Regions from separate parts of the Homo sapiens genome. Here all the other regions are linked to region 1. Evidence: fine-mapped expression QTL. A gene starts in region 1. Each other region holds a variant in brackets. All regions are shown on one strand. Distances are from middle to middle. Region 1 holds the start of NLRP6 (NLR family pyrin domain containing 6). Region 2 overlaps BET1L (Bet1 golgi vesicular membrane trafficking protein like). Region 3 has its middle 18 kb from the start of PSMD13.

What was found. PIP is the estimated chance that this variant, and not a neighbour inherited with it, causes the effect.
Region 2: its variant is fine-mapped to the expression of NLRP6 in whole blood (INTERVAL, PIP 0.97).
Region 3: its variant is fine-mapped to the expression of NLRP6 in follicular helper T cells (Schmiedel 2018, PIP 0.95). The same link has a PIP of 0.9 or more in Th2 cells.

What each region holds. Positions count from the first base shown.
Region 1 is chr11:277,125-279,880 of GRCh38, reverse strand. NLRP6 (NLR family pyrin domain containing 6) reads right to left here and starts at 1,474. Exons shown (of 8, transcript NM_001276700.2): 1 at 1,283-1,474; 2 at 274-554; 3 at 9-47. The coding sequence starts at 1,311. RefSeq lists an enhancer at 1-174.
Region 2 is chr11:203,674-206,429 of GRCh38, reverse strand. It overlaps BET1L (Bet1 golgi vesicular membrane trafficking protein like), which reads left to right. Exons shown (of 4, transcript NM_001098787.2): 2 at 387-478; 3 at 763-819; 4 at 961-2,756. The coding sequence ends at 1,128. Among named protein-coding and RNA genes, the nearest start is that of BET1L, 2.3 kb to the left of the region's middle. RefSeq lists an enhancer at 116-615. The variant G/T (reference allele first, on the strand shown) is at 1,444.
Region 3 is chr11:253,220-255,975 of GRCh38, reverse strand. It overlaps the pseudogene COX8BP. Among named protein-coding and RNA genes, the nearest start is that of PSMD13, 18 kb to the right of the region's middle. The variant T/C (reference allele first, on the strand shown) is at 1,555.

The sequences.
Region 1 (2,756 bases):
AGACCCACCGGACACGGAGAGCAGCGTCCCGGAGCCGAGCCCGAGCCCTGGAAGGGAAACTGGGGTGAGGTTCCGCCGAGGGCGGGAACAGGGGAAGGCGCCACGGGGGTCCGAGTCACCCTGAGGAGCACGCAGGGTCCTACCCCTGGGGCCCGCGAATTTGTGGATAAAACGCGCGGGGGCCGGGGACCGCGCCGGGGCTTCTCCGGGAAGCGGGAAGGAGGGCAGCCCAGCCTCTGCCCAGACAGGAGGGACCTCCCGCGCAGAACTCACGCTGCAGCCGCCGCTCCTGGAGCTGCGCCGCCACGTCGCGCGCGTCCGCCCTCTTGAGGGTCTTGCGGGCCACCTCCAGGGCAGGCTCCGGGCCGTAGAACTGGGCCAGCTGCTCCGCGAGGTCCACGGCGTCCGCGCGCTCCAGCCGCCCCCACGGGATGCTGCGTCCGTCCGGGCCCACGTCGCGCAGCTTGTGGCGGAAGCGCTTCAGCTGCTCTTGGCTCAGTTCCTCCAGCGCAGCCAGGAGCAGCTCGCGGGCCACCGCGAGGCGCGGCCCCGTGCTGGAGGCGGGCGGGCGCGGGTCATCGGGGAGCGGCCCTCGGGTGACCCCCGCCCGCCCCCGACTCTGGCGCCGGAGAACCCACCGCGGGCAGGGCCTCAGGGAGTCCCGGGCCAAGCATCGTCTGGATCCATGGGGTGGCGGGAGGGGGCAACGGGGAGTGACCCCAGACTTTTCCCTCCCCCGTCCCCGGACCCGGGTCGGGGCGTCTTGGTGTTCTTCGCCCTCTGAGGGTGAAGTGGGCACTGGCCGCCGCTGATCTGAGCTCTGGGGGGCACCTTCCTCCCCTGCACCTCCCTTTCTGCTTCTGTCCTTCCACACCCCAGGACAGGTCACATGCCCCGAGGGAGGTATTTCCAAGGAACCCTGAGCTCTCTTTCCTCGCTTTCCTTCTTTTCCCTCTCTTCCCGATCCCGGAGCAGAACTGGCCTCTTTGGCAGCAGACACTGCCAGGCCCAGGCTGTATTCCTGGGCCCCCACCCCTGCCACACTTTGGTGGGGCCCAGCTTGGGGCCTTGCACCAGGGCCTGAATCTGAGCCCCTGGTGGGGAACAGACTCCACAAATGCCCTCTGTGGGGAGGCAGTGCTTGGCTCCTGAGCCTGGGAGTGAGGGTGGGGGAAGGATGTGGACAAGGGTGGAGAGCCTGAGGAAGTCAGCGGGTGAGGTGGAGGCCCCAGAGGGCTGAGACCAGCCGGTTCCCAGTGACCACCCTGGGGCCAGCACTCACCTGGAGCAGGGGGCCTCTGGCTGGTCCATGGGGTCTCTTCCTCCCTGGGTCTAGCACTCCGGGGCAGAGGTGGGGATCAGAGAGGTGATTCCTTCACAGGCTGAGCTGGAGCCAAGTCTTAGAGGTTGTCCAGCCCGGTCCATTCCCCGGGTCCACACACCGCAGCTCAGCTGGCACGAGATGCTGTTGGGCACCGTGGCACACGCAGAGCATTGCCCTTTAAGGGCTCCGTTTGGTGACCTTTGATTTTCTTACTCCTTTATCCCATTAATGTTCCCCAAGAACCCCTGGGTGTGGCATCGGGGCATGGCTGTGAGCAGGCAGCTTCAGAGCAAGGTGGGTTGTGTGAAGGAGGTGGCTGGCTCAGAGCCAGGCCTTCAGCTGAGGCCTGGGGAGAGGTTAGACTCTGAAGGCAGGGGTGAGGAAAGACTTCCAGGTAGAGGGAACAGGGGGGACAGCCAGCAGCACGCACCATATATGGGAGGGAAGGCAGTCTCCAGGGAGACGCCGGGCAGGGGTCTGCACTGCAGCCTCCCCACCCGACCTGAACAGCTGGCGGGCAGAGGCTGGACGTCAGGGGTGTTCGAGACCCCTGGGACCAAATGTGAGAGTGTGTGGAACGGGGGGGTTAATATGTGGAAATGAGAGGTGCTGGGTAAAATAAGGCTGAGACCTACTGGGCTGCATTCCCAGGAGGGTAGACATTCTAAGTCACAGGATGAGACAGGAGGTTGACACAAGATACAGGTCATAAAGGCCTTGCTGATAATGGTGTAAAGAAGCTGGCCCAAAACCACCAGAACCAAGATGGCAATGAGAGTGACCTCTGGTCATCCTCACAGCTCATTACTCTAGTTACAGTACATTAGCACACTAAAAGACACTCCCACCAACACGATGACAGTTTATAAATGCCATGGCAAAGTCAGGAAGTTACCCTATATGGTCTAAAAGGGGAGGAACCCTCAGTTCTGAGAATTGCCCACCACTTTCCTGGAAAACTCATGAATAATCCACTCCTCGTTTAGCATATAATCAAGAAATAACCATAAAAATGGGCAACCAGCAGCCTTTGGGGCTGCTCTGCCTATAGAATAGCCATTCTTTTATTCCTTTACTTTCTCAATAAACTTGCTCTCACTTTACTCTTTTTTTTTTTTTTTTTTTTTTCATGGAGTCTCGTTCTGTCGCCAGGCGGAGTGCAGTGGCACGATCTCGGCTCACTTCAAACTCCGCCTCCTGGGTTCAAGCAATTCTCCTGCCTCAGCCTCCTGAGTAGCTGGAATTACAGGCATGCACCACCATGCCTGGCTAATTTTTGTATTTTTAGTAGAGACGGGGTTTCACCATGTTGGTCAGGCTGGCCTTGAACTCTTGACCTTGTGATCTGCCTGCCTTGGACCTCCCAAAGTGCTGGGATTACTGGTGTGAGCGACCATGCCTGGCACTTTACTCTTTATGGATTTGACTCAAA
Region 2 (2,756 bases), 73 kb after region 1:
CTCTTAGCAGAGTTTACTCTTTTTCTATAAGAATGGGCTCCACATACACAGATGGTGACCTCCCTGGATGCAAGTGTCACATCATACTAGCACCCCAGGGCTGGGTCCAGTTTTTGCTACACAGTCTCAGAAGGTGCTGGTTGGACCGAACCCATTGTGGGTGCTTGCCCATCCCCACCTTGATGTGTACACAGGACATGTGTTCACATGACAGGCCCTTACACACATCGTCCTTTATGCAGCCTGTCTCATGTGCAAGATTCACCTGCTGGAACCTTGGTTAGGGCCCCCTAGATTTCTGACTCACCCAGATGTGGTTGGAGTGAGAGGGGTCAGGGGCCGTGCTCACCGATGGATGCAACCCTTCAGCCCCTCTCTTTTCTCAGCTCAGAGCCCGGGCGCTGTGGAAGAGATTCTAGACCGGGAGAACAAGCGAATGGCTGACAGCCTGGCCTCCAAAGTCACCAGGCTCAAATCGGTCAGTGGTGGTCTGTCCTCTTACCTCCACCTGGTGCCTTTGGGGAATGGGGATCAGAGGGAAGGCAGAGGGCCCAGAGGAGTTTCAGGCAGTTTTCCATCCTCATCCAATTCGTGGCTGTGCTCACCTGCATGAGGCCCCAGCTGACACCTGGACCTTTCTGTCTGCTGCAGCCCCACTGTGTCTGGCAGAGTTGTTGGCAGGGTTTATCTGGTCTGGGGAGGGTGAGTGCTGTATTATGTGTCTGCTCTGGCCCAACCCTGCCCTCTCTGTCTGCTGAACAGCTCGCCCTGGACATCGATAGGGATGCAGAGGATCAGAACCGGTACCTGGATGGCATGGTAAGGGCCCACGGTGTGCGTGTATCAGTGCCCTGCCCTAGCACTACCTGCTGCAGAGCCTGCAGTGTCTCCTTCAGCACTGGTGCGGGTGGGTGGTCAAATCACCACTTCTGTGTGATCTTGCTGGGATTCCTCCCTTAGGACTCGGATTTCACAAGCATGACCAGCCTGCTTACAGGGAGCGTGAAGCGCTTTTCCACAATGGCAAGGTCCGGACAAGACAACCGGAAGCTTCTATGTGGCATGGCCGTGGGTCTAATTGTGGCCTTCTTCATCCTCTCCTACTTCTTGTCCAGGGCAAGGACGTGAGCCAGTGGGAGCTGGTGTCTGTGGGTGCCAAGGGCAGCCAGGGTCTTCCCTGCCTGGTGTTTTGGGCTCCAGAGGACTTACCTACAAAATACTCCTTTGCAATGATAATTGTGGGTCAGGAATCTTCTTCCTGTGTGGCAGGAGGCTGCGGCTGCCTGTGACCTGATGAGCTCATGTTGGCTGGTCCCATGTGTGAAAGGGACTCTCTCGGGGAAACCAAGGCCCAGCCCCTCCCCCCTCCCCCAGGTGCTAGAGAGCCAGGCAGAGCTGGGGCCACAGCGTGTCTGGAGAAGCCAGGTCTGAGCAGAGCAGCTG[G/T]TGAATCCCAGACGTGGCCACCTGTGGCTTGCAGCCCTTCTCCCCGCGCTTGGGACTCTGACATCTTAAGGCTGCACGGTCGTGTCCTTGTCTGGGTGAGGCCATGTCTGTGATCCAAGGTTCCTGGAACTGACACAGGAAGGGGCTGTGAACCCTAAGTGGGTGTCATCTCCTCCGACCGAGGCTTCTCACCCTGGAGATGGCAGTTACTCCTGGCCATGGTTGCTGAGCATGGGCAGACCAGTGGAGGCCACCCTACTGTGTTATCTGCGCCTTCGATGAAGTGAGACCCTTGGGGAGAACGGGCTGTGGATGAAGGAGTGGACTGCAGCCTTGGCCTAGCCACTGGGCTGGGATCTTCTGGGTCATGTGACTGTGTATCCAGGAGCAGAAACTTGTATTCTCAGGATTCAGGATCTACCCAGCACCAAAGATGTATTTTCAGGAGAACAGACCTAGAAATGGGCCTGTCTGGCATTTCAGAGTCAGGCAAAGCAGGCAGGGCCAGGGAGCTTCTGTGGGTCTACACAAGAAGGTTCCTGTGAGGGCTATCAGTTGTTGCCTTCTAGCTTGCTGGTAACTTTGGCGCCTCCGCCAAGCCCTGCCAGACTCCCCTGGCTGTGATGGCATTCTGTGCCATCCTCCTTGTCCCCAGCCTCTGCAGGATGCCCTCCCTACCCACCTCTCCCTGGGCCTTCCCTGTCCACTGGGCTGGATTCATGTTCAAACCACTGGACTGGCAGGGCAACGACTTCTTCCCACCTCAAGATGAGGTCCTCGCCCCCTTGTCTTGGCATAAAAACACCTTTAAAGCATGAGCCATGTGCTTCTTTGCCCTTCTCTGTCCTGTTCCAATCTTCTGCCTCCCAGTCACTCCCTGGGGACTATGGGATCACTGTCCCCCCACCTGTGTGGCCACACCATATGTCCTGTCAATCCAGAACTGCCTCTGAGCTCCAGGCTGACCACAGATCAGCCACAGCCTGATGCCTGCAGCCCCACTTTGCTCACCCTTCCCCTCCCCTCCTCCTTCCTTCCACACAGCAAGCCTACCTTTCTCCATCCATGCTCACCATAGCCCCCTTCCTTGTGACCTGGACCCTCCATTGTACCTGGCTGAGACTGTCAGCCTCCTGGAGGAGTGGGGTCCACCTTCTTCTTGCCCTATGCAGTGCAAGCTCACTTCTCACCCAGCAAGGTTGACTCATCTGCCTCCATGTCTCTGGGGCTTTGCTGTTGCCCTGAAACCTAGCTGGGCTGGTCTTGCTCCCAGCTTGCTTCCCCCTCCTCGGATGTCCCTTTGCAGGCCCCTG
Region 3 (2,756 bases), 24 kb after region 1:
TCCATCCACTCATCTGTTGTCCATCCACTCACCCATCCACCCATCCATTCATCCATCCATATATCCATATGCCCATCTGTCCATCCATCCATGTAACATTGACTGAAAAAGTCTGCTAAACCAGACACTGCTCCAGGCTCCAAAGATTCAGTGGTGAACACAACGGAGTCTCTGCCCTCATGGGACTTACATTCCAGCTTCAAAAACAGAGAGTAAACAAGATATATCTAAGGAGATGTCATTTGAGCAAAGCCTAAATGATCTAAAGAAACAAGTAAAAACCTGAGGGAAAGGCTGTCCAGACAAAGGCGCCAGTGAAGGGTGGGAGTGCCCTGTGTCTGGGATGTGTTTGGATTATAATCCTGAAAGACACACTCCTGAGTCTTGAAATCCTGAAAGATCAAAATATCTAAAGTGTAAAATCTCTAATATTTAAAATTCCAAAAATCACAATCACAGGAATCATAGAAATTTTTAAAAAGTAGCGCCACTTAGAAAATGAATTTGAATGTATTCTCCAAGGAAAGCCATGTCCTAAAAGAAAAAAAAAACAGCTATTCATTGTGATGCAAGACTTCAGAATATAGTTAATGGGGTCGTGGAAGTTTGCCAGCTCTTACAGAATATCTCTGCATAGTTGCCCATAATCTACTGTAATATGACTTACACAGAAAATTCGACATATATGGCTTTTTCAAGTTGAATTTTCTGTATAGTTTTTTTAGCTTTTTTCATCATCATAAATTGTCAGCATTATTTTTTTACAGTTCACTATGCTCTCATTTTATCCTTGCATCATTTCAATACTGAAGATATAAATTAGAACACTTATACAGTGTTCTAATTTGTTTTAGGCATTTTTTGCAAAACTGACTCCACAGAAGTGCATTACCACAATGTTGTCTGTGTGTGTAGGTAAAAATGGGATATTTCCTCAATAAATGAAGAGATGTCCTTTTTGTACATCTGCATTTGTGAAAAATTTCTCTAGATCTTGGTTTTTTTGGTGACTGGCTATGTGGTGGTGAACTGTTGCGGTTCTAGATTGAGCCTGTTAGAAGGCGTAGGTTGTTCATCCTGGCTTTTCGGAAGACTGCAGTTATGAACCTGGGCGCACGCAATTCCCACCCGAGCGGTAGGTGTTCATGCATTTCCCCTCTCAACACATTTCTTTACGAATACAGCTCATCTGTGCATAACTGTCATTGGTATGACTGTTTACACTTGCAGAAACATGGATATTATTATTGTCTATTTTATTGTGTGAAGTGGCCTATGATGTGTTCTGTCATATGTCATGTTTTTATGTTTCTCAAATAAATCCCCTTTAAAAATGTAAATAGATGGCCAGGCGTGGTGGCTCATGCCTGTAACCCCAGCACTTTGGGAGGCTGAGGCGGGCGGATCACCTGAGGTCAGGAGTTTGAGACCAGCCTGACCAACATGGAGAAACCCCATCTCTACTAAAAATACAAAATTAGCCAGGTGTGGTGGCAGGCGCCTGTAATCCCAGCTACTCAGAGGGCTGAGGCAGAATTGTTTGAACCCAGGAGG[T/C]AGAGGTTGCAGTGAGCGGAGATGGTGCCATTGCACTCCAGCCTGGGCAACAAGAGTGAAACTCCGTCTCAAAAATAAAAAAATGAAAAAAAAGTAAATAAATATCTTTTAAATAATTTTAAAATTATTTTTTCCAGAAATATATTTTCAGAATTTTGATTTTTCGGGATTTCAGCATGCAGAATTGTGTCTCTCTGGGCTGTGATCAGCTCATGTCTGGGATGAGGCAGGAGCCTTGGTGGGGTGCAGGGAGAGCAGATGAGGGTAGGAGCAGGACCAGCAAGGCAGGCAGTGGTCAGAGCACTCAGGCCTTGGGGGTGAGTGAAGCCTGTTGGAGGATGCTGAGCAGCGGCAGCAACAAGACCTGATTGTTCTGGAAGACTGTCTGGGCTGCTGTGTGGAGGAGCGGTTATGGAGGACAGGTTTGAGGCTGGACTTAGGGAGGGTGGGGAGTCAGCGGGCTCGATGTACACATGAGTGTCTGAGGGAAATGGAGGCTCACACTAAGACATTTGGCCTGAGCAGCTGAGAGGGGCTGCGGAAGGTTGAAGGGTGCACCACAGGGCCTTGGGAACTTGACAGTGAGGTGGGTATAAAGGCTAGTGGTCAATAGATCCCAGCAATTGTGACTGACGAGGAACAGCTGGGGTGTCAGGCCATCTGGACCAGGGCCAAACGAGGTCTGGAGAGGGTGGGTGGAAAGACCGAGAGGGGTCTGGGGCCATGAGGTCAGGCGAGGCCTGGACGAGGTGGAAAAAACCAGGAGCTCAGACACCAGCAACCAAAGAGGAAAAGGCTGGAGAAGATGCCGGACAACTGTTCTTTGCCAGCCTAGCAGACTTGTGGGTGCTTTCCTCCAACAGGAGCAGGCCGTGGGGCTCTCACATTCATCAGCTTCCTGGTTCCTGGAGGCTGGGTCTCACCCGACCTGGAGAGCTGCAAGAGCTCCATGCTGTCACTGCAGGCCCAGGACTGAAAGATCACATTAAACTGTCCTTCCACCTAATGTTCACTCTGTGATTCTTTGTGTACGTGCACCTCCACTCCCAGACGGGGAACCTCAAGGTGGTTTCCTTTACATGCCCAGTCCCAGGGATGGCTCATGTCCGCACTGGGGCACACCAGGTCACAGATGCTGGTGGCTATTTGAATGATGAGTGGTGACAAGGATGTGGATGGATGCCTGTGTCGGGGCAGGTACC